Linked DNA regions of Homo sapiens: regions 1 and 3 are each linked to region 2. Evidence: fine-mapped expression QTL. A gene starts in region 2. Each other region holds a variant in brackets. All regions are shown on one strand. Distances are between the middles of the regions. Region 1 overlaps ST3GAL1 (ST3 beta-galactoside alpha-2,3-sialyltransferase 1). Region 2 holds the start of ST3GAL1 (ST3 beta-galactoside alpha-2,3-sialyltransferase 1). Region 3 overlaps ST3GAL1 (ST3 beta-galactoside alpha-2,3-sialyltransferase 1).

Region 1 (8,266 bases), 88 kb after region 2:
CTGGGCTGGTCTTGAACTCCTTACCTCAAGTTATCCACCCTCCTTAGCCTCCCAAAGTGCTGGGATTACAGGCATGAGCCACCACACCCAGCCATTCTACTTTGTCTAACTTTTGTTTTGTTCAGCACTTGACAGCAACTGCTAGATGGCCGGAGCCCAGTGAGTAATTGTCAAATGAAAGAATGAAAGCAAGAGCGAGAATCCACAAAGGGGCTTGGCAGTGTCCAAGTCAGAGATGTTGCCAAGACAAAGTGAGATGCTGTATGTAAAGGGTCTGCATGTAGTAGGTGTGAAACTCACACATGCCATTTCTTCTTCATTTTCAACCCCACTAGCCATTATCCACACACACACATATGCAGTTCTGAATTTCTCAGAGGAATGATGATCCTGGGTAGGTGACATTTTCCTAATGTTAATGTTAATGTTAAATATTCTTTTGTGATGGTCAGGAATTGTTCTAAGCACTATATATATATATATATACCAATAGTATTGTTTCCAATATGTGTTAAATATTCAAGATTATTAGTAACATGATTGTACGGTGTGGTAGCTCATGCCTGTAATCCCAGCACTTTGGGAGGCCAAGGTGGGCAGATCACGAGGTCAGGAGTTCGAGACCAGCCTGGCCAACATAGTAAAACCCCGTCCCTACTAAAAATACAAAAATGAACCAGGCATGGTGCACATCTGTAGTCCCAGCTACTCGAGAGGCTGAGGCAGGAGAATCGCTTGAATCCGGGAGGCAGAAGTTATGGTGAGCCAAGATGACACCACTGCACTCCAGCCTGGGCAACAGAGCGAGACTCCGTCTCAATAAAAAAGAAGTAAGAAAGTGACTCTCAGGACTAACCAATAGTCATTAATTTGTTCAATTAGCCAAGTCTAGGTGAGCAGGGGCTGGGATCATTGTTGCATTTTACAGATGAGGAGCTGACTGGCCTCGGCTTCTGAAGTGGCCCAAGTCACGCTGTGCTCCGTGGCTGCTGTCCCTGGGGTTGGGGGTGGGTGTTCTCTCCTCTCCTGGGAGGCGCAGGGAGCCTCAGGGCAGCACAGTTGCTGGCTGGCTGGCTTCATTCGAGACTGATTTTTTTAATCGACATAAGGAGAGAAATGTCCACCCCAGTCCTGCCATTGACAGGGAGCTTGTCATCACCTGTTTACCTTGCAGTGGCCAGGACCTCCTCTCAGGCCTCACCTCACTGTGGCCCTGTTTCTCTTGGATGATGTTTTCTGGAGGGAAACGGGTCTGGCTCCCCTCACGGCTGATCCTTCCTGACCCAGGGGAGGAGAGCGGCGTTGAGTGGGTCCAGGCCTGGCTCGGCCATGAGAGCACAGCTGTCAGCTTCAGGGGTGACTCAGAGCGGGTGGAGCCCAGCTGGAAGGAGAAAACAAAACAAGGGAAGGGAGGGCTCACACTCGCCCCTGCCAGGCCCTGAGCTGCGCCACACACAAAGCCCACTCAGTGCTCACAGTGCCACCATGGAGTGGGGATAGGCTGGTTCCTCTTCCACAGCTCAGACAGCAAGGAGGCCCAGGGCAGGGGCCGACCTCAGCCTGGCACCATCCACTTCACACCAGTAGGTGTGAAGTTGGGATTCTGCATTGGCCGTAATCCTGACTTTACACCTACCGGCCGAGGGCCTTGGGTAGGTGGCTTGACCACTGTGGGCCTCTGTCCCAGCTCTGAAAGCTGGAGATGATACCCAGTACCTTCATCGGGAGCTTGTTGTGGGCCCAGCCAATGTGCACCGGTATTGTGCTTAGAACACAGTATAGAAAAGACAAAGGTGATGGTAGGTGTCCTCAGTGTTGACACATTACTGCTCTGTGCAGTCACCTCAAGTAGGGATGGTTTTTAACCCCCGCTTTATGGATGAGGAACTTGAGGCTCAGCAGCCCATGTAACTTCCTGGGGGTCACCGCAAACAGCCCCCCACCCCTTGTGGCAGCAGCTAAACCAACTCCCGACCTTCTATCCCCCCCAAAGCTCCACCCTCTCTTTTCAGTTGCAGCCCATGACACCTCCTAAGATCCTGCCCCTGGGAATGGGAAGAACACCTACTCCGGGGTAGCCACCCTGTAGAATACAGCAGGTTTTTTCTAAGGAGTCAAGCGGGTCTTGGGACTTGGGCATCTGGTTTTCTTTAGCCCTGGTGCACTTTTCCTGTGTATCCTTGGAAAAGTCACTTCCCGTTTCTGAGCTCAGCTTCCACATCTGTGGACTGAAGTGAGGCAGCAGCTTGAAGCGTGAGGATTTGATTCGGGGATCCAGGTGCTTATGAAGTTCTTGGAAGGGCAGTGAGAATGGGGGACCTCCAGGGTTTGGGCTGCAATGCTTCAGGTTGAGGCCCACAGGCCACGAAGCTTCAGGAAGTCAGGGCAGAATCTGCAGCTGCCCCGCTGCCTGGAGGTAGAAGAAGGCAGGTTCTGGAGTCCAGATTCTGGGGCAGCTACACAGCAGCTTCTACCACTGCCAGAGGAAGGAAGGCTCTTGCCTCGCCCACCTGCCCGTCCCAGCTATCACTGGTCAGATCTCAACTACTTCCAAAGCGCTATGGACAGGGATGCTGGGAAATGTAGTTCCCAGGCTTCCAGCCCCTGCAGTTAGGGGAAGCACACAGCGAGTGGGAACAAACTCTCACTCCTGTAGACAGTGGCCAGCATAGGAACCCCTGCTGGCAGCAAGAAACAGGGTGCCCTGAGAACCCTCGAATGCAGGCAGGATTGATGCAACTCTCAATATGGGATTTGAGCCATGTGGATTGCAGATACCACTCTAGCTTCTAGCCTTATTCGTTGATCATAGCTACAAGTTTGCTGAGTTCTTAAATGTTTCTGAACAGTCTCCCATCACAATTCCCAGTGCGTGATACCCAGGGAGCAGGGAGGGTTAAGGACATCAGCAAAGAGAAGGCCTCATCACCCAGGGTCAGCGGTATCAGGCCAGGAGTACCCCTTAGCTTCAGGGGGATGGACAGGTGGCAGGAATCCTGGGGCGGGGTGGGCTTTTTAAAGCCCAGCAAGGCTTCCAACCAGGTGCCTCTAGCTCTGACTCACTTGGCCCAGGTTTCTTATTAGGCTGATTCTCCAAATGAGGGATTAAAGTGGAGGTCAGACACACTCCCTTGTAATAACACAGGGGCACAAGGGACTGCGCTGGGAGAGTTCCATGTGGAAGTTCCACACACTCAGCTTCCAGAGACAGCATCTTCTTCCTGGGGACCCATGCCGAGCACAGAGTGTGTAGGAAAGGAGGGAAGGAAGGAGGGAGGAAAGAAACGTTTAGACATTGATCCCAAAGATACAAAAGACCTGGTCCAAGTTGGCTCTGCCATCTCCTAGTTGTTTTAACTCAATCCAGGTGCCTGCCCTCCCTCAGCCTCAGTTTTCTTGTCTGCAAGTTGACAGTGAAGGTAACTCCCGTGTATTAAGCATCTGTTAAATGTGAAGCATTTATGCACTTAACTCTCATGTGAACCTTTGAAGAGATGTGATTTTCCCCATCTTGCTGGTGCAGGCCCTGAGCCTGATGAGGTAGACGAGGTCCCTACCCAAGACCTCTCAGCTAGGAGGTCGGAAATTTAGGAATCAAACCCAGATCTGGCTGACCCCCAATACCCATATTCTGTTCACCACCCAGTGAATGGGGCTGCTGAAAGGGTCAAATGGATGGCAGCTGTGACTGTTTTGGCAAACTATAAAAAACAATGCAAAAAAAGAGATGACCCCCAATTCAAGACTGGCAGTCGGAGGTTGTGAGGTGGCCAGGCTTTCCTGCGGATGTGTAAATCTTGGATACTTCAGAAGACAATGCATCTGCGTTTCCAAGTGTGTGGGAAAAAAGACTGATTGGAGAGTGGAAAATTGGAGCTACCAGAGCAATTTTGAGGAACCTTTTCCTGGGGAAGATCAAAGCTGGTGGCAAACTCAGGTGGGCCTGACTCTCTACATAAGCCTCTGGGACCAGCTGCCTCCTGACCCAAGGCAAGGCTGTTGCAGAGTCTGGGTCTGGGAGCCCCTGGGAACCCTGACATTTCCCCCAGTGTGTTAGGAGCTCCTTCCTGCAGGTCCTGGGAGGTCTTGGCCACGGGAGTAGAAAGCATGAAGATTTAGCTGTTCAGCACATCAAGGAATTCACACAAATAATGAATTCGGCCAGAATCATCATTTGTGTAATACCACTGGTTTGCATGATTTGATGCCTGATTTCATTTGGTCTTTTAAATAACCCTGCGAGTAGGACAGGCCAAGGGTTCTGCTGGACTTTTTCCTTTTTGTTTACAAATGAGGACCTTGAAGCTTAGTGGGGAGAGACAGAATTGACCTTTGTGGTCATCTACTCTGTGGCGGGAACTGAGCTGTTCACTTTTGTGCAAGGCCATTTATCCCACAGCAACGCTTCGTGTGAGCATTTTTGTTTGTTTGTTTGTTTAAGATGGAGTCTTACTTTGTCGGCCAGGCGGGAGTGCAGTGGTGCAATCTCAGCTC[A/G]CTGCAACCTCCACCTCCCAGGTTCAAGCGATTCTCCTGCCTCAGCCTCCTAAGTAGCTGGGATTACAGGTGCCTGCCACCACACCCGGCTAATTTTTGTATTTTTAGTAGACACAGGGTTTCACCATGTTGGCCAGGCTGGTCTCGAACTCCTGACCTCGAGTGATCCGCCCACCCCAGCCTCCCAAAGTGCTGGGATTACAGGCGTGAGCCACCATGCCCGGCCTGCGTGAGCATTTTTAATCCTATTTTGTAGATTCAGGAATTGAGGATCAGAGAGGGCAAGTGCCTTGCCTATGAACACACAGCCAGGAATGGGAAGAGTCAGGATTTGCATGCAGGTCTCTCATGCCTTTGTTGTTGTTGTTGTTGTTGTTGTTGACAACTGTTGGCCATGATCCACTAGGAAATTCTTCACAAAACCAGAATAAATGGGTTCCAAGCGTCCAGTGACCAGGCATGGGCCGGACAGCAGTTCAGAAAGGAGTCATTCTTCTTACTGGAAGGTTTGAGGGCCATTAAGTATCCAAGATTTACTGGTCAGGTCTTACTTGGTCCCACCCTGTGCCCATACATGAAGCCAGCCGGCCAGGATCCCAAAGGCCAGGACATGGGAGGATCTGTTTTTCAATAATGGGAAGTCCCCGGATGTGTTGCATTGGAAGTCATCTCACTGTCTGTGCAGAGCTGGCCTGGGAGCAGGAGGTTCTGACATAAAGTGAAAGCAGATGCAGTGGGGCCGCTTGGGTGGGGCAGGGAGGTGGTGGCTGCCATGGCTGCAGCTGCAACTTTCCAGCCTGCAGATCTGCCTCTTCCTCCCACCATCTGTGCACTTGGCTGGTGTGAGGAGGTTTGCCTCGGCACCTCTGGGGCCTCTCTGGGCCCCATCCTCTTCTCTGAATTTGCCACGCCCGTGACACATACAGGCAACCACTCCAAGAACAGGAACATGGAAAGGCAAAGAAAAGATGCTGTGACTTCTACTTTGGGCAATGGCAGAAGCTTGTACCAGATCTTTTCTCCCACTGAGAACTATAAAAGCTGGAAAAACTTGAAATCCAGCTCTTTGAAGGCATTAGAGAACAACTAAAGCAGCCAGGACTTGAGGTGCGAAGACCCCCCAAGAGAAAGGAAATAAGTTGGGAGAAACCCAATATTCCCTGCTCATTTTCTGCACGAGGTATGTGCTGATTTTTGCAGAGGGTTCAGAGGACGAGCAGAGAGCAGCAGTTCAGAGTGTTTGGCAGTCTCGCAAGGTGGGGAAACAAAACAGAGATAGGTAGGTAGGTAGAGGGAGTCAGTGAGTTCAGGACTGCTAGGTCAACCAAAACCCAAGGAACCAAGAACCTAGAGCAAAAACAACCACAAAGAAAAGAACATGTGCTCTGTGCCTTCTAAAATTTTCCTTTCAAGGCATTTGCCAGCACTTAAGTTTCATGGGTCCAGAGTCTAAGAAACCAAGCAGAAAACAGCAGATGAAAAGCTAAAAAGACTGGGCATGGTGGCTCATGCCTATAATCCCAGCACTTTGGGAGGCCGAGGTGGGTGGATCGCCTGAGGTCGAGAGTTCGAGACCAGCCTGACCAACATGGAGAAACCTCGTCTCTACTAAAAATACAAAAATTAGCCAGGCATGGTGGCATGTGCCCATAGTCCCAGCTACTTAGGAGGCTGAGGCAGGAGAATCACTTGAACCCAGGAGGTGGAGGTAATAGTGAGCCAAGATCAGGCCACTGCACTCCAGCCTGGGCGACAGAGTAAGACTCTATCTCAAAACCAAAAACACAACAACAACAATGACAACAACAAAAAAACCCAAACAAACAAAAAAGAAAGGCTAAAAAGTTAAGCTTACGGTGATCTCATAGTACAGGGGAGACAGAAATTGGAGATAGGAGCCTGTAAGGAAGAGTCACCCTGATAAGCATCTTGGTTTACCTGTTGAGAACGGCTATGCCCCAGGGGTAAGAGTAAACCAGAAATAGACCAGTCTTCATGAAAAGTGAAACACAGCTGCAGTTAGAACAAAGTAATGTGCCACTTCTGTACCTGCTCATCAGGAGACAACCGGTCCTCTCTGAAGGAGGACAGCCTCATCCAGAGCCTCTGCATTTTTGTCATACACAATACAAACAGCAACCAGGCCTGCCAAGGACAGAACCAAATAACCAAAGAAAGAAAGAGCAACCGAGAAAATAGACAATAGAAATACACCCACATTATCCAAGTATCACAGGATATCCAATGTGGGCTTTAAGACGGCTGTGGTGAATAAAATTGCACAAAGATAGATGACAAGGTGGAGAAATTCACCAGCAAAGTAGAACCTGTCAAAAAATTAGGTAGAAATTCCAGAACTAAAAGACACCACTGAAATGAAGAACTGAATTCATAATTCAAATAGAGTAGGCACAGCAAGAAGGGGGAGTAAACAAGGCTGGAAAGATGACAGTAAACCAAGTCCAAAGAAGTTATCAGAAAGGGAATGGGGAAGATAGGGAAGATAAGAGCAGGTATTGATGGAATTGAATGATGAGCCACGGCTACACAGAAAGCCACAGGAGAAGGCAGGAGTCTGCCTTTGCTACCATTTTGCTGTGTGACCTTGGATAAGTCACTTGCCTTCTCTGGGTTTTAGTTTTTCATTTCAGGGAGACAAGCGTAAGGGTTACCCACCTCTCCTGGTGGCTTGGGGATCACATGAGGAAAGTTGTGGCCACTCTGTATTGAAAGCGTCAATTTTGCCAACAGCCTGCACAGTTCGCTCAGGCATTTCTCTAGTGACCATAGTGCCAGGGGCTGTGTGAAGGGCTGGGAGGGCATCCCAGCCTGTGATGGGTATTTACTACCATCCCGTTCAGTGGGTATTTACTACAGGTTCAAAACCCCGTGTGGTTCCTTCATTTGTGTTTCCAGGAGTTTCACACAGTTCTCTCAGTCTCTGGTCATTGCCCCTCAACTCCCTATTGCCAGAGGAGTTTATCTTCATTAGGGACTCTCCTTAGGGAAATTCTTACTTTTCAGTCCCCAAAAGTGTGCTGACATTTGTCAGTCTTGTGCTGGTGACCCCGCTAAGCTCTGTTGTGTGCAGGTGCTTCATGCCTCCTCGTATTGAGCATGTGGCTGGGAAATGACTGCCATTTGGCAGAGGACAGGGAGCCAGCTTCCCTCCTTCCCCATCCTTCCCTGCTCCCTCTCTTCTTTCTCCTTGTTCTGGGGGGCCCGGCCTCCCTCACCGCACACTTGACATGCAGAGATCTTTGGTCTGTGGCGTCTTGGCCCAGATGTCATTTCCGGGAGCCAGGGCTGGCATTCCCCCATGCCTGCAGGCTGCCCCACGCTTGCTAGAGCACGGAGAAGACATGCAGTCCTGGTTTCTTCCCTGCAGCCAGGGAAGGGGTATAGCGGTGTTCTTGCTTTTCCATTGCAGTTTTATCCAGGGCTTTGGAAAGCGCTAAATGATACCAGCTCAGAAGCCTCTGATGGTTATGGGGAGTGCCCTGGCCTTGGAGGTGTGGCTGCAGGATGCCCCAGAGGAGAGGAGGCTGTCACAGTCCCACAACCTGTGCAGCACAACCTTGCCCTCTGCCCTGCCTCTCACGCCATCCCTAGCAGCAGCCTAGAGCATTAATATCTCTCACGCAGAGGCAGGACATTGTAGGAAACCTGACCTCTCATCCAGAGCCTTGTTTGATCAACACGGATCAACAGTCATCTGTTTCAGGGAACTCATCTCTGCCCTGGCATTAGGGGTGCAGAGGCACTAAGGGCA
Region 2 (8,266 bases):
TCAGTGTCATCAGAGGGGACCACTCTCATATACGCATTCCTTTTTTGACCAAAACGTCATTACTCAGTGAACGACTGTACATGTGAGAAGTGTGGCTGGGTTCTGCCAAATAGTTTACTAACTCAAATGCCTGCCAAGATTCTCAGAGTCAGGACCATGTCTCCTACACTCCCTCTAATGCATCATCTCCTGGAGGACTGTCCTTCTGCACAGTCATTCATGGGATGAGCTCAGGCTGCCTGGGCAGTCCATCCAGTATTGGATTGGTGATTCATGACTCTGTAGATGAGGCCTGTCAGTCAGATTCCTCTCCTGGAAAAACTAAAACACCTGGTGGAACCACAGTGGGAAGTGAAGCTGAAAAGATTATTTCCACAATTGCCAGGATGCAGAAAGGCTGAGGCCATAAACATGCAGAAAACTTTAGAACAGACCCCAGGATTTAACAGAGAAAGCCTGTGGGCAGAGAGAGAACAGAGCGGAGAGGGGGAGGGGGGGCAGCGGTGGGGGTCGGGAGGGAGACAGAAACACAGAGATGGGCTCTCTCTCCTTGCAGCTTGTTTTCAGCTTCAGTCTGCACATCTCTACATTAAAACTCTTTTTTCTAAAGAAACTTGAGTGAGTTCCTCACAGTCCCAAGAGCCCTAAGGAAAACACTGTCTAAAACACAAAACACCATGTGCTGTGCCCAGCACCTCTGAACTCATCTCTGACAAGTGGTGCAGCCCTTTTCTTTTCTGCACAATCACCCAAATGGGACCAGAACCCATTAGGATCTTTCCACTCTGCTGTGCCAAGAAACGGGGGTAGGGAAAGGATGAAATCAATTTCCTTAACCATCATTACTGAGAGCTTTGCTGGTGCTCCAAAAGGTAGGAGGTGGCAGCATGCAGTAAATCAATGTCAGCGCTCCCTGGAGACCCACTGTGAAGACACTCCCAGTAATGACTATGATCCTTGTTCTCTGGCAGGATGTGATGGGACATACACTCAGGGTGACAAAGAGGAATGCATGCACACACTTCTGACACACAGCCCCTGGCAAGGGTCCTAAAAGGGGGTGTTAAGAGAGCTACTTGCATGGAATGTCAAAACTCTGGAAAAAAAGGGAGAGGGAGAGGCTGTCCCTGTTACCTGGGAAGAAACTTAACAGAAAGAAAGTGGGGCTTTCAGAAAAGGCCTTGCCCAGGTTAACCCTTCAGAGATGAACTAAAGATGCATCTGATGTACAATGTTTTATTCAAATAAGGTGGTGATTTATGTGTGTTTCACCACAATGTCAATTAATAAGGAATTTCCATCTCACTATGGAGTCATCCAGGGGAACTTCCAAGACATGGTCCTGAAGCCTCCCTCCAACCCTGAGAATCTTGGTGGGATTTGCGTTAGCAGAACTGTTTGGCAGAACCCATACAATCTACACTATTCACATATATAGTCATGCATTGGATAACATTTTGGTCAATGATGGACCACATGCATGTAAGACAGTGGTCTCACAATATATTAATGTAGCTGAAAAACTCCTGTGCCTAGTGATCAGAACATCAACTCAATGCATTACTCACATGTTTGTGGTGATGCTGGTATAAACAAAACTACTGCACTGCCAGTATTGCACGTGGAATACATACAGTAAGAACTCAGCTAAAACTGAGCTGCTTTTGGTTCTTGGCTGCAAAGTGCAACAGCTGGATGACCTGGGGCTCCTTACTTGCCAAATCTGATCCTCTTTCCACAGAATCTACTAGGATATAGTAGCATAGTCTTATATGAGTATAGCATTTTCTATTTTTCGAATATGTTCCCATACATTATTTGATCCATACAATAAACAACACTTTTGTTATTTCATCCAAAAACTCTTTATTGGCCCAGACGATATTCCCAGCCAAAGCTAAAAGTCTGGTGCATGTTAGAAGCTCTTCTTTGCTGGAAGACGCTGCTGGTGGAGGGGACAGTAGCCGATGTAAGCAGAACTCTCTGCCCCCCTCCTCCCATGCACACAAGCAATCTGGAGATGCAGTGAACACCTTGACCTGAGTTTCAGAAAGAGGAAAGCCCACAGGATGTGTCCAGGCAGACAAAAGGGCTCACCCCTTCTCTAGAATTCTATCAAAAACCAAGGGCGTCAGGCAAGAGGTCTCAGAGCAGGTCCCGAAGTACCTAAAAGGCTATTCATCTTTTCCTTCCCTTTCTAGTAGTTATTTTTCTCATTCTCTCTCCTCCCCCTTTTAAAAGCTGGTTTTTCTTCTACTTTTCTCATCTCTGAATATTTCTCCTTTTCTCTCCCAAGTCCCTGAAGTCTTCCCCAACACCCTAGCCCCCATCTTCTAGCACAGGTCATCTTCCTGCTGTGGGCAGGGACCTGACACTGGAGAAACCCACCATCTACACAGCTGACTTACTACATGTCAAAGACAGTTCTAAAGGTTCTATGTGTACGAATTCACTAACTCATCACAACAGCTTTATCAGACAGACACTTCTTAGGTCGGTTCTCACAGATGAGGACACCGAGGCACAGAGTCACCTAGGCTGGGAGGTTCAGTCACTAGCCCAAGCTCACACATCCGTTGAGTGGCAGTGCAGGATTTGAACCAAGAAGTCCGGCCATGCGGGCCCTGGCCTGAATCCCTGTACTACAGCAGCCGTCTGATGAAACAAAGGCTGGGGGACTCTCCCCTTCCACTGCAAAAGGTTGATCTCTCTCCAGCTGGAGCAAGGGGCGCTGGAAGGATGCAATGACCCCAAAGGCAAACTGTGCCTCTTTCCTCTAACATTCCTCCGAAAAGTTGCGAAAGAGGTAGTCTCAGTAAGGGGTTAAGAACCGTAAAACCAGATTTACATGACTTGTGTACTGCATTTAGCATCAAAGCGCTGCACTCTGCCTTTCAGCAAAAGAAGTCTCCACCGCCCCCGCTTCCCTGTAAAAGAGGGAGGGCTGAATAACTGCAAGCCTAATCCGCAAACCCCAAGCTCCAGCCGCAGCCTCCGCATCTGGAAGGAAAAAGCGGCGGCAGGCGAGCCAGGGCAAGGGCTGGGCCAGGGCCGGGGCCGGGACCAGGGCCGGCCGCAGTGCCCGGCTCTGTGGCTCTGAACGCGGTTCTGGCCGCAAGAGTCGTCCAGCCCACGCTCCTCCCTTCCCCCTCCCTAAATCCCACCTCGAGTCCCGCGCCCTTAGAGGAAGTGGGTGGCTCTGCCCGGTCGCCAGCAGGGGATCGGCCCCTTCTCCCCACCGTGCCCCCGACTCGAGTTCTTCTGGGCACTGCCATCCTCTCGGTGCGTGCCCGTCTTCCTGCTGAAACGGACCCCAGTGGCTCCCGGGCCTCCCGGGCGCTCTTCCTTAGCCCCGCCAGCTTGAGGGCCGCGTCCAGAGAGCGGGGAGCTCCTCTCGGGGCGCCGATCAGGTCCCCGCGCCGCAGCCGCCGCCTCCGGCGTCTCCCAGGCTCGGCCTCTGCCGAGCCCGCTGCGGTCCACGTGGCTTGGCAGAGCTAAATTCGGCTTGCAGGAAGCCCGGAGCCAAGGGAAAGCCGAGCCAAGTTGGGGTGGGCGGGGCCGAACGGAGGCGCAGAGTCGGGAGGGGCGGGCACTGGGCGGAGGAAGGGGAGGGCCGCGCGCAGGGGAGGCGGTGGCTGGGCTCTGGCGCGCCCTGGCACCCGGCCCCGGCCGGCCAGGGAAGGCGGCCCCTCCTCGGTCGCCCCGCCTTTCACTCCCGTTACACCCGGGGGAAGGTGTTCCCGAGCCCTCTCCCACCCTCATCCCGCCTCCTCGCTTCCTCGGCTCCAGCCTCCGCCGGCGGAGCCCACTATGCCAGACAGTTTCGACACTTTGCAAAGACAAAGAGCCCTAGACCGGAGGGAGGAGGAGGAGGAAGAAGAGCGGAGAGAGAAGGAAGAGGCGATGTGAGCTGGGAAGGGGGCAAGTGTCCGGGACACCCACACCCCTGTATTCTCCTCCGAACCCCTTCATGCCCAAATCCCGGAAACTCCAGCGTGTCTCCAGCCGTGGTGAGTGCGCGCGCGGAGGCGAACCCTGCTCGGGGTGCGCGGGGGCTGCGTCCGCCTGAGTTGGGGCTCGGGCAGTTTCCTGTGGATTCTCGGAGTGGAAGGTTGATTGTCTGGACCCGGGAACTGAAGGGGTGGGGAGGGGACTAGGAGGGTGTGACAGTGGAGCTGGGACTGAAGACCCCGGGATTCTAGTGGAAGACATTCGAAGGGAGACCCCTTCCTTGGCAGCGGCGACCACCCAGGGCTTTGGGAGAGGAAGAAGGTCGGGGTGGAGGTTCGGGCTTAGGGGTCTTCGGCCGACACTGGAGGAGCTGCCTGGAGCTCTGTGGGGAACCTACGCCAAGTCCCGGGCAGCGGTTCCCGAAAGCAGCCCCAGTGACATTGCACCCGGCGCCGGGCTGGGATCTCCTCCGCTGGGGCCGCCCGTGGGAGGAGACCTCGCTGGGTGGCCGGGCTCAGGCGCTCTCGAGCGGATTTGGGGTCACAGGCTGGGACACCGCGGAGGCCGCCAGTGTTCTGGACGAGCGGCCGTGGGACAGTATCCGGATCGAGTCCCCCAATCCGCTGCAAGCAGGCGCAGATCCGGGAGGTGGCTATCGGCCCCGGGGACGCCGTCAGAGCGCGCTGCTCCGGATCTGGGGGTGAAGTTGACACCCGGGACAAGAGAGCTGAACGCGGCGTGGCGGACAGTGGGGGACGCGGGTGGGCCAAGGAGAGCACGGCCGGAGTCGTGTTAGTGGCAACTCGAAACTCTGAATCCGCCCCAACCCCGTGAGGCGTCGCAGCTCCCAAGAAATAATCTGACAAAAGTTAGCAACTTGCCTGTGTCTCTCGTGTGTGTGACCTGCGTGGGGGCAGGGCCACCCCTTCTGGGAGCGCACGGGGACGGACAGCGGTGACCCTGGGGCGAGGCGCTCTGGTGAGGGTACAGTTAGTTTGGAATCGGGACGGTGGCGCAACTTTCCGCTCCTCCTTTCTCTGCGCGAGTGTTTAAGCGTGACCTTGCGGGAGGAAGCGCGGCTGAACTTGAGATGGGGGTTGAGCTTGCGCCCCGGCTTGGCACAGAGACGTCGGAGCGCGCATTAGCCTGGCCTTGCAGCCGGGTCTCCCAGGAAGCGTGTGGGGATCGTCTGGCTCTGCTCGTCAGCTGGAGCCCTGACTCGCTCCTCCCTCCTACGCTAGGGTCCTCGGCGGCCGTACCATGCGCGGGGCTCGGTGGTGTGTTGGGCGAGGGGACACGTGCGCACCCAGAAGCGCGCAAGGGGGTGGGGGTTGGGCAGGTCACTGCGTCTCGCGGGCTGGGCGAGTCCCGCAGAGGGAGTCAGCCGTGACCCTGAGGGCAGTGACTGGCTCGCCGCGTCCCTGCATCAGGCATTCGCCCGGCTTTCTCGTGATTGTTTCCGGGCACCCCTGGCCTCTCCCGACTTCTCCCCCTCGCGGGTCCCCAAGCCCCGCAAGTTTGCGACGAGCTGGTTCTCCAGGGAGACAGCGAGCGCCCACCCCCGCTCTGCGGCTGGGTGTGTGTGGTGAGAGGAAGAGACGGGAGGAGGAGGCGAGGCCGACTCGCCAACGAGGAAAACGGGGTGAGAGGGGAGCCGGGTTTTCCAATAGTCGCCAGGGCGCCTGGCACGTCGTAGGTGCTAACGCAGTGTTCATTGACAAGGCCCCAAGGTGGAAGGTGCTGGCAGGGGCCCGGACGCCCCCTTCTTCCCTTCCAGTCTCTAAAATGGAGTTCAAATGTATCGACCAAGCCCTTTAGGCTTCTAGACGTGCCTGGAGCACCTACTACGTGCGGGGGCTCTACTCCTGGCCTGTTCGTAGAAGCTGCGGGCGGAGCCTCCTGATTTTCTTTACCCCGCGCTGCCCAAGCGCCCAGAGGCTTCGAAAAGGCAAGGTGCACTGCCCCCTGCCGGCTGCTGTGGAAACTGCCGCTTGTCTCTGCGGTGGGGAAGGGGCGCCCAGTGCGGGGGTCCCTCAGTGCCTTCCCGCACCTCCCCTTCCTGCCCCAAACATTAGGACCCCTGCCGGCTGTTTTCTGAAATCCCATGGTTGGCTGAAATGACTGACTAGAGTTCACCACTCCGTGCCCCTCAGCCTCTGCCAATATCTGGGTACAGCGTGGGGCCTCTTCTAGTCTCCCGTCTCTCTGTCTCTGTCTCTCTTTGGTCGCCAGACTTAACCTCTCGGCGTCTCAGTTTCTATATCTGCAAAATGAGGCCAATAATACATTCTCCAAAATACGTTCTGCATAATTGCGAGTGGCGATAATACATATAATTAAGTGAATGTGTGTATGTATAGGTAGTTCATACTCTACATGTGTGTATGTGTATACCTTGACTTCAGGTCTAGGGAAAAAAGTTCCATCGTACACTTTTTGCTAAATAAAGAATGAATAGAGGGCTCCTTCTCCTCTTGCCTTTTCAAAATCCCACAAACCCTGAAGTTTGCTTTCCCTGCATTTTTCTGGGCCGGCATTTGCTGTTTAGAGTCTGATTGGACAAGGCCAGGACCTGGGCTTGAGCAGGGCCTTTGTTGCCTACCTCCCTGGCTGGGAGGCCACAGCACCCCACCCAGGGTGAGAGAGAAAAACAGGAAGCGTTGCTAGAAGTGATGGCAGAGGAGGGTTTCTTAGGGAGTGTGGAGTCTGTTCCTCGAAGCTCTGCAGCAGCAGGCGGAAACTGCCTTCTGAGCAGCCTTCTTGCTGATTGTAATCAGGGCTGTACTGCCCCCCTTCCCTGGTGGCGCTCACAGCATTGGCTGTCGCTGATCTGGAAGCCCTTCTTATGGGGATGAAGTCGTCTGTGAGCTTGACAGGAAGGAGTCCTTCTAGGTCCTGGGTCTTTGGGGGTGAGGTAGATCTCTGTCTCCCCTCCCCACCAAGCAGCCCCCGAGCCAGGACACCACCCAAAGGCAGGCAGTTGACATTACCCAAGGAAGGGCCCTCTCCCATGTGTGACTCTGAGGCTTCTGGTCAGGTAACCTTGCTTGAGTCAGTTCCTGTGTAGAAGGTTGCTGACTCAAAGGGTTTATATTTGGGTAGAGCTTTGGCCAGGGATCTAAACATTAACCCTCACTCTAGGCCCCTCCCACACCACCAAAAGCGACCAGGAAAGCAAAAAATAAAATCCACCAGCCATCTTGTAAAAGCTTTCCAGTGAGTTCTGCATGCCTGTGTGCATACACTCCACAGGCTGATGGAAGAGCTGGCCCGGTCACAAAGAATTCTAGAATAAGACTTAGATGCAGCTTCGTTCCGTTGTGTAGACTTTGTGGAAACTTCAGCATCCCTGCTGGCACACCTGAGGAGCTGAGAGCTCTCTTCTGCTCTAATTTGGTCACAGGAGCCCAGACCGGGGCCCTGTGAGAGCCTGCATTTGAGTCCCAGTGGCAGCGCTCAGTTACTTTGCAACTTGGCTCCCAAACTATTCCAGGCTCTGGGTCTCAGTTTCACTCTCAAAATAAGAGGCTTGGCTGGGCACAGTGGCTCAGGCCTGTAATCCCAGCACTTTGGGAGGCCGAGGTGGGTGGATCATTTGAGGTCAGGAGTTTGAGACCAGCTGGCCAATGTGGTGAAACCCTGCCTCTACTGAAAATACAAAAATTAGCCGGGCATAGTGGTGGGCTCCTGTAGTACCCAGCTACTCAGGAGGCTGAGGCAGGAGAATCACTTGGACCCGGGAGGTGGAGATTGCAGTGAGCTGAGATCGTGCCATGGCACTCCAGTCTCGGCGACAGAGTGAGACTGTCTCAAAAAAAAAAAAAAAAGAGAGCAAGGCTTTAGAGTTCTGCTGCCCGTCACTGAGGGTCCATTAAAAGCTTCTCTTTGTGAAGACAGCCACCACCTGATTTATGTTTGCTTCAGCCAGCATCATCCTCAAAACCCTCCCGGTATCACAGACAACCCTGGCTTGGGGCAGCTGGACTGTCTACTACCCCATGCCAAGGGCATCTCCCCTCTCAAAGAGTGGCCAGGACCATTCGGAGCCCACACCCGCTTGGCAAAGTCATTTTCTAGCAGTTCTCAACGCTAGATTTTGAAAGCAGTCCCAGAAGTTTCAGACTCTGAGGTCTGAAACCTGACAGAGCCAGGGTGCCATCTGTGGGGACTCCCAAATGGTACATATTGCAGAAGGAACCCCAGTGATCTCACCAGGGCCTGTTTTGCTTCCCATCCACAAGCTGAACATGACCTTAGAAATCACTTTGGTCAGCCCTTTCACTTTAATGTAAAAATATTGAGGCTCAGAGGGGAA
Region 3 (8,000 bases), 100 kb after region 2:
CAGAAGTCTGAAAACAAATTATGGGCAGACTTGGCTCCTCCTGGAGGCTCTGAGGGGGAAGCCGCCCCAGGCCCGCTCCTGGCTCCTGCCAGCTGCCGGCAGTGCTGGGCGTTCCTGGGCTCAGAGCTGCAGCAGTCCAGCCTCTGCCTCCACTTCCACAGGGCCTTCCTCCCTGTATCCCTTTATGTCTCACATGTCCCTCTCCTTTTCTTATGAGGACACCTGTCATCAGGTTTAGGGCCCACCCTAATCCAGGATGATCTCATGCAGAGATCCTCAACAATTTCACCCACAGAGGCGCTTTTTCCAAATGTCATGCTCACAGATTCCGGTGACTAGCACTTGAACGTATCTTTTTGGGAGCCACTATTTCACCCACTACAGCTATTGAAATGCAAAAAGAGAGAGAGATCCTTATTCTCATGGAATTTTATTCTGGCTGGGAGGGGAAGATAAGAAATAAACAAGGTAGGCTCACACAGAAGTGCTTTGAAGACAGATCCAATGAGGTTTGTCATAGAAACTTAGAGGGGGCTTCTGTAAATGGGGTCACCAGGGAGGTCTCTGAGACAGCAGGACTCAAGTTGAGACCCACAGGCAGAGAAGGCAGCAGCCATGAGAAGAGCAGGACCATGCACTGCAGGTGTCTGGGACAGCGGGTGCAAGAGCCCGAGGGTGGCCTCTGCTGGATGTAATGGGGAGTAGAGGAGCTCTGCATGGCTGGGGGGCTGTAAATCAGGGGAGGTGCAGTGAGACGAGGCCTGAGAGTCAGCAAGACCCAGGGGAGGACTCTGGGATTTCTTGTAAGTGCAACAGGAAATCACTGTAGAATTTTTGTCAGGGGGTTTCATGATCTGATCTTGTCATTTGAAAGGTCATTCCCATGTTAAATGCAAAATAGATCGAAGAAGAGCAAGATATATGTGTTCATGTCTTATTTATTGAGCACCTACTATATGCCAAGCATCACTACATTGAGATGGAAAAGATAGAGTCTTTCCTTTCTTGGGTTGCAGGAGTGATGGGGAGAGAAGGGAAAACAGACAAACTCAAGCCAGGACCATAGGTGCTGTGCAGGAAGTGGGCACAGGAGCGATGGTCTTCATGTCCAACTCCCCTTGGAGCCTGGGGTTATCGCAGAAGGCTTCCTACAGGAGTGATGGCCAGGTTCATCATGAAGGATTCAGAGAGGTTATCCAGGTAGATTCTGGGGAAGGTCTATTTGAAATGAACAGAAAACATGTGTGAGACTTAGAAAGGTCAAAAGCCCTGGGCTATGCTTCCAAAGACCTGGCTGAGTCCTGGTTTGCTAATCTGTGTTGAGCACCACTGTGTGCAGGTCCTGGGGTGGGCTCTGGGGAGGTAACAGAGAACCGGGCAGGTAGGGTCTTTTCCCTTTCAAAGATCCAAGGGTCTAGGGAAGGAGGTGGCGAGCCAGGCATGGTAAGGATTAGGGTCTGCTCTCAGCCTCAGCACTATGGACTTGTGGGGCAGGATCAGCCTTAGTCACAAGGGCTGCCCCGTGCATTGCAGGATGTTTAGCAGCATCACTGGTCTCTACCTACTAAATGCTAGGAGTGCCCCATCCCCAGTTGCGATAGCCAGAAGATCTCCAGACATTGTCAGGTGTCCCAGGTGGGGTGTGCGTGTGTGTGGGTGCACATGCATGCACAAAGTTGCCCTCCCTTGAGAACCAGCAGGGTTGGGAAAATGACACATTGATGGCAGAGGTGGCTTCACACACATCCCATCTCCTCTCTGGATCTGATTCCCCCTGTAGCAGCAGTTGCTGGGACCACGTTAAGTCCAAACTTCCTCTTCAGAGCCTGGAGTCTGTGATGTTCAGTGTCACCATGGGATTCTGTTTACAAAGGCCTTTTGGGGACAAACAGGGTACTACACAGCCTGTTTATATAAACCAAACAGGAAGGGACCTTACACAACAGCAGGTAAAGGAGAAACTTGGGGGCCTTTGTCCTCATTTTACAGACAAGGAAACTGAAACTCAGAAAAGTTAGGTGACTTTTGCAAAAGAGAACATCAAATCCAACCTCTGGAAATACCGTATTAAAAACTGTTATTAGAGAGTATCACCAAGACAGTATCGATCTTTCTTCTTGGGGAGGGCGGTTTCTAAAACTCTTAGGCTGGTGTCGCCCAGGAGGGTTAAAAAGGCGTAAGGGAAAAACATCAGCTTCTGGATATAAGCCATGTGTCTTCAAAGAACACAGGCTATAATGTAGACTTAGGAACTGGGGCCTGGCATCAGCGTTCCTAGGTTTTGTCGCAGAGTTTGTAGGTCCCATCAGGAGTGACTTTGAAGAAGCTCTTCATCTCACTGAGTCTCAGCCTCCTTCGTGTTACATGGGAGAAATGTTACTTCACCAGGTTCTCTACAACCCTGCAAACATTAGTTTTAACAATTGTATTTATTTTTGTTGGTTTAATGGGCAAGTAATACTGAACTTAGGTGGGTTTTTTTTTTTTTTCAGTACTAATTAAGGCTGAATATATTTCCACTTAGTTGTTTCCCATTTACCAGATGTCTTCCCCTACCTGCAGCCCTTCTCTGCAGTCTTTTTCTGAAGTTTAGCCTCTGGTGGCTGATCCCAGGGCAGCCACTTGGAAGGAATGGGGCTTCACCCTCTGGAAATCAACAGAAAGGAGCAGGGCTTTAGAGCTTTGGGGTTCTAAAAAATGCACAGATAATACGGAAACCACACGCTTTGAATAAAGAATCGGGATACAGGCATGGAATATCTGACAACAAAGCCATCCTGAGAACTCCAGGCTGCGCCATTGCTCTGCTTAAAGGCCCCCCTGCAGGCAGGACCATTTCATGAATGGAACTGGACTTGGGTCATGATATGGTTTGGCTTTCACCCAAATCTCATCTTGAATTGTAGCTCCCACAATTCCCACGTGTTGTGGGAGGGACCTGGTGGGAGATAATTAATCATGGGGGCGATTTCCCCCATACTGTTGAGGGGGTTGGAAGAATCTTAGGTGAGAATGTGAGGTCCCGAGCTCCCATCCTGCCCTGAGCTTCATAGTCCTCCTCAGTCAAGTGGGCATCACAATTCCAGCTCGTCCCAGCCCTGGCAGGAACAGGGACACAGGAGCAGTCACCAGGGCTCACTCTTTTAGTTGAGTTGAGTTGAGTTGAGTTAAATTGAGTTGAGTTGAGTTTACAAATCAGCCCCGTGCCCTGCAAGTGAAGAGACTGCACCACCATCCCAGGCTGGACCTACTGACCCCTGTGACCCTCTCCTCGGGTCTCTGTCCCAGACACCCAGGAACAGGGATTCCTTCTTCCCCAGTCCCCATGTCCAATTCAGAGACAAGCCATGTCGAATGCTGACTCTGCCTTCTCTACTTGCCCCCAACTTGGGAAACCGTTTTGTGATACGCAGGGGACATTCTCAAGGGACAGAAAGAGTGCGACCCTCCCCTGATTTCCGCCCCCTGCCCTCCTAAGGCATCTTCCCATCCCAGACATCCATGCCCAGTGCCCAAATGCAAAATAATACCATCATACTGTCCACCCGGCGCCTAGCACCAACTCTGGCCAGGTCCTGGGCCCAGCTTTCCAGGTACCACTGCTTCGCCCTTACCACCCCCACCACCAGGAGGGTGTAGGTATCTCATTGTCCTCACTTTGCACTTACCAGGTCACCCACTGTCAAAGGGCACAGTCAGATCCCCTTGTAGTTAAAGGACATGGTCTGGAGTCAGGCCCAGGATATTCAAACTGTTTTGGTCCTGGGAAACTCACTTCACCTCTGTAAGCCTCAGTTTCCTCACCTGTAAAATAGGTCTATAAGATCACCTTTCTCATAGAACCATTATAGAAACTCAGTGAGAAGCTGCCTATCAGGTTATCAGCACAGGGTCCTGCATAGGGCAACCATAGAACATGCGCTTCTGCTCAGGGTGAGCCATCTGAGTCCTGCACGAGCCATTTCTAAGCACCGCCTGTCCCGGCGCTAACCTGTCCACCCCACCTGTCCACCCCACACGGCACCGGGGATGTGATAGGGGCTCAGTTGTGATGAGTTGAATGAATGAATGTGTGTTAGCTTTAGCAGTTGTCATTCACTTATTCAATGGACATATCTTGAGCCTGTACTACCTAGCATGCTTGTGTCTGCTGCTTGGATGCCAAAGGGGCCAGGGAAACCAACAGCAGCTGGGGATTGGAATGAGGCCTGCGGTGAGGCCCCAGTGGTGCCACCCATGTGTGGAAGGCCAGAGACTGATATTTCCAGGGTCCAAGGGAGGCTTCTCAGAAGGCGATGCATCATTCATTGGCCGTGGAAGGAGGAAGGAGGATGGGAAGGGAGCGCGGGTACCTCTTCCCAACACTCTCGGGACGGGTGTGGCCTGTGGATAGGGAGGACTTCCAGCCATCGTGCCTCAAGACAGGACAAACTCTGCCATAGCACAGGCTCCAGAGTTCCTGTGGATCATGCCCGAGTGCAGGGTGAGGTGAGGCACCCAGGGCTCCAGCTTCAAGGAGATGTCCGCTCTCGGGCC[G/A]TGCCCCTGGGCATGAGTGGGCCTCCTTATCCCACTTGCCCGACTCCTCACTCGCCTCGCCCCCAGCCTGCAGTGCTTGACTCCATGGAGACCTCCCCTTCCTTCTCCTGCCTTGCTTCTCATCCCTCTCCAGACAGCACCCACCATGGACACCTGCATCCGTGCCCCAGCCTCTGCTTCCAGGGAAGCTGACCCGAGGCCCCGTGCTTCCCAAGGAGCTCAGGCCACCAGGCGGCAGGCATTGATTGAGCGCTGATTGTATGCAGATTGAGCGCTGATTGTATATACTTGGAAACTAGTCTGGAAGGCTGGAGAGGGCGTGTCCCTGAACTTCCAAACACTCTGTCCTGTGTTCATATCAGTAGCACTGTCATACTTTTTTTTTTTTTGGCATGGAGTTTCTCTCTTGTTGCCCAGGCTGGAGTGCAATGGCGTGATCTCGGCTCACCACAACCTCCGCCTCCTGGGTTCAAGTGATTCTCCTGCCTCAGCCTCCTGAGTAGCTGGGATTTCAGGCATGCACCATCACGCCCAGCTGATTTTGTATTTTTAGTAGAGACCGGGTTTCTCCATGTTGGTCAGGCTGGTCTCAAACTCCTGACCACAGGTGACCCACCCGCCTTGGCCTCGCAAAGTGTTGGGATTACAGGCGTGAGCCACCGCACCTGGCCAGCACTGTTGTTCTTTTATTGCCACTGACAAAAGGCAGAGAAAACCAGAATATTTCTTTCCCAAAACAGTGACGCCACATGGAGTAACCTGCCTGCTCCATCTCAGCTGGTGTGGGGAGGACTTACTATGATAATCTAGAGAAAGAGCCAGTTTCCCATCTGAGCTCTACCTGGCCCTGCACTCACTCTGGGACCTCAAGTGAGCCCTTTCCAGGGTCTGGGCCTCCATTTCCCCTTTTGCCAATGAAAGATTGGAATGGGTCTGAGATTTCTGAAGCGTGGGGCTTGTGATGTTAGGTGAGGCAGGGCACTAGAGAAAGTCGCATCACAGAGCCCGGAGGTCATTTCTGCCGTCCCTCCTTCCCACCTGTCTCTGCAGTGCTGGGGCTTCAGTTTGGCCTGGTGTCTTACTTTGCACCTTGTCAGCGCTTGTCAGCCTTGTTCTAAGGGAGAGGAGAGTTTGCCTGGGCAGGCAGCAGGGTAGAGCTGCAACCGAATACAGTAGTTTTGTTTTCATTGCATTGTACAACTACCATTTTACTTCTGCCAGGTAATTCTTGCTTTCTACGTGTGGTAGAGATGAGAGGTTTCCTTTCTAATAAGTTTATTTTTATTATTTGGCCAGGCATGGTGGCTCACACCTATAATCCCAACACTTTGGGAGGCTGAGGCGGGTTCATCACCTGAGGTCAGGAGTTCGAGACCAGCCTGGCCAACATGGTGAAACCGTGTTTCTACTAAAAATACAAAAATTAGCCAGGCACAGTGGTGCACACCTGTAATCCCAGCTGCTTGGGAGGCTAAGGCAGGAGAATCCCTTGAACCCAGGAGGTAGAGGTTGCAGTGAGCCGAGATCGCACCACTGCATTCCAGCCTGGGCGATAGAGTGAGACTCCATATCAAATCAAATCAAATCAATCAATCAATCAATCAATTTATTTTTCTTAAATAAGTCATTAAAGAAAAGTAAGTCAGTCAGAGTCCAGCAGGATGATGTGGTGCTGTGTGAAGCAGGCAGCATACTCTCCACACACGTCCATGGCCGAGCTTGAGTCCTGGCTTCTCAGGCCTCTGTGGCACCCAGTAGACACTCAGTAAATGTCACTGCATGATGGATACACGGTGCCAGGCTCCCAAATCAAAGTAGCGGCGTGATGGAAGGCCACCCCCTGGGCCTGGGCACATCTTTACAAGCCTAAGGGGCACAGCAGCCCTTGCTAGTTGGAGACCTCCATGGAGGTTCAGGGGAGTCTGGCTGTGGTCCTCTACCCTGGGGCTCTCAGAGTGTAGTCCCCCCACCAGCCCTGGCAGCAGCATCACCCAGGAGTCTGTTAGAAATGCAGGATTTCGGGGCCAGCTTTAAACCTACTGAGTAAGATCTGTGCCTTAGCAAGCCTCCAGGGGGTTTTCCGCACATTCAGGATCATGGAGCCACCCTGGATGATCCCATCAGAATCAGGCATTTTATCTGGATATCACATCTGTGTGTGTGACAACATATTCATAATATTTATCATTTTCACCACTTGTGTGTGTACGATTCAGTAGCATTAAATATATTCACAGTGTGTGTAACAATCACCATTATCTATAACCATAACTAGCAGATTTTTGTCATCCCAAGCAAAAACTCTGTCCCCATTAAACAGTAACTTCCCCTTACCTCCTCCTCCTCCCAGCCCCTGACAGCCACGCTGCCACTCTCTGTCTCTATGAATTTGACTACTCTAGGTACCTCACATAAGTGGAATCATATAATATTTTTCCTTCTATGTCTGGCTTCTTTCATTAATCATAATATTAGTATTTTCAAGGTCCATCCATGTTGTAACCTATTTCAAAATTTTCTTTTTATAGCTAAATAATATCCCATCATATGTCTGGAACGTACTATGTTTGTTTATTCATCCATCGCTGGAGACTGGGTTGCTCCCACCTTTTATCTATTATGAATAATGCTGCTTTGAACATGGGTATACCAATATCTGCTTGAGACCCTGCTTTCAATTTCTGGGGGTATATACGTAGGAGTGGAGCTGGTAGGCCACATGGCTGTTCTGTTTAACCTTTTGAAAAACCACCCAGTTTTTACCTCGGCTGCACGGTTTTACATCCCCACCAGCAATGCACGAGTTCCATTTTCTCCACATCCTCACCGATACCTGTTGTTTTGCCCTTTTACTTATGATAACTGTAGCAGTGGGTGTGAAGTGTGGTCCAGATCATGTTGCTTCCCATGACGTGTCTAACGGTCTTAAGCCAGAGGAGAGGCTGCCTGGGTTTAACTGGAAGAGCAATCTGGTTCTGCTTGTGTGCCTCCCCTTGGGGCATCCGATTCCTTCCATTGCAGTGGGGACTGGGTGCCCCGGGATCTCCCTACATATGCCCAGGTCACTCATCTTCTGGACAGTGGCCAAAGCCACTGCTGGCCACTCCTTCCTCTCCCAGCCACCCCTTGCCCCTGGGGCCCGGAGTAGCCGATGGGAATCACCCCACAGCTTATCACCCCTACCCCAAAATCCAGGGTCTGGGCTTTCCAAAGGCCAAGATTCCAAGAGCCAGAGTTAGGGTTGTGTGGTGGGAGAAACCTGCTGGTGGGTTTCTAGAAGCCTGGGTTCAAATCCTGGTTTGTATTTGGGATGAGTTGCTTACCTCTCTGGCCTCAGAGCATCCTACCTCACCCACAGTGAAATGACACAGCACTGTGGCATGGGGACAAGGTCAGATGCAACACTTTTATGAAATCTCTCCAGGGTTTACCACGAGTGAGGAAGGCTGAGGCACCAACAGGCA

Evidence for each region. PIP is the estimated chance that this variant, and not a neighbour inherited with it, causes the effect.
Region 1: its variant is the best candidate, but not a certain one, in a credible set for the expression of ST3GAL1 in whole blood (TOPMed, PIP 0.83).
Region 3: its variant is the best candidate, but not a certain one, in a credible set for the expression of ST3GAL1 in blood mononuclear cells (TOPMed, PIP 0.68).

What each region holds. Positions count from the first base shown.
Region 1 is chr8:133,479,514-133,487,779 of GRCh38, reverse strand. The region is part of intron 3 of ST3GAL1 (ST3 beta-galactoside alpha-2,3-sialyltransferase 1); the gene reads left to right. Among named protein-coding and RNA genes, the nearest start is that of ST3GAL1-DT, 87 kb to the left of the region's middle. RefSeq lists an enhancer at 5,089-5,138. The variant A/G (reference allele first, on the strand shown) is at 4,495.
Region 2 is chr8:133,567,437-133,575,702 of GRCh38, reverse strand. It overlaps ST3GAL1 (ST3 beta-galactoside alpha-2,3-sialyltransferase 1), which reads left to right and starts at 3,816. Exons shown (of 10, transcript NM_173344.3): 1 at 3,816-4,010. ST3GAL1-DT (ST3GAL1 divergent transcript) reads right to left here and starts at 5,131. Exons shown (of 2, transcript NR_186509.1): 1 at 4,833-5,131; 2 at 1,847-4,645. RefSeq lists silencers at 3,067-3,126, 3,317-3,806 and enhancers at 5,597-5,816, 5,176-6,029, 5,987-6,056.
Region 3 is chr8:133,467,345-133,475,344 of GRCh38, reverse strand. The region is part of intron 5 of ST3GAL1 (ST3 beta-galactoside alpha-2,3-sialyltransferase 1); the gene reads left to right. Among named protein-coding and RNA genes, the nearest start is that of ST3GAL1-DT, 99 kb to the left of the region's middle. The variant G/A (reference allele first, on the strand shown) is at 4,537.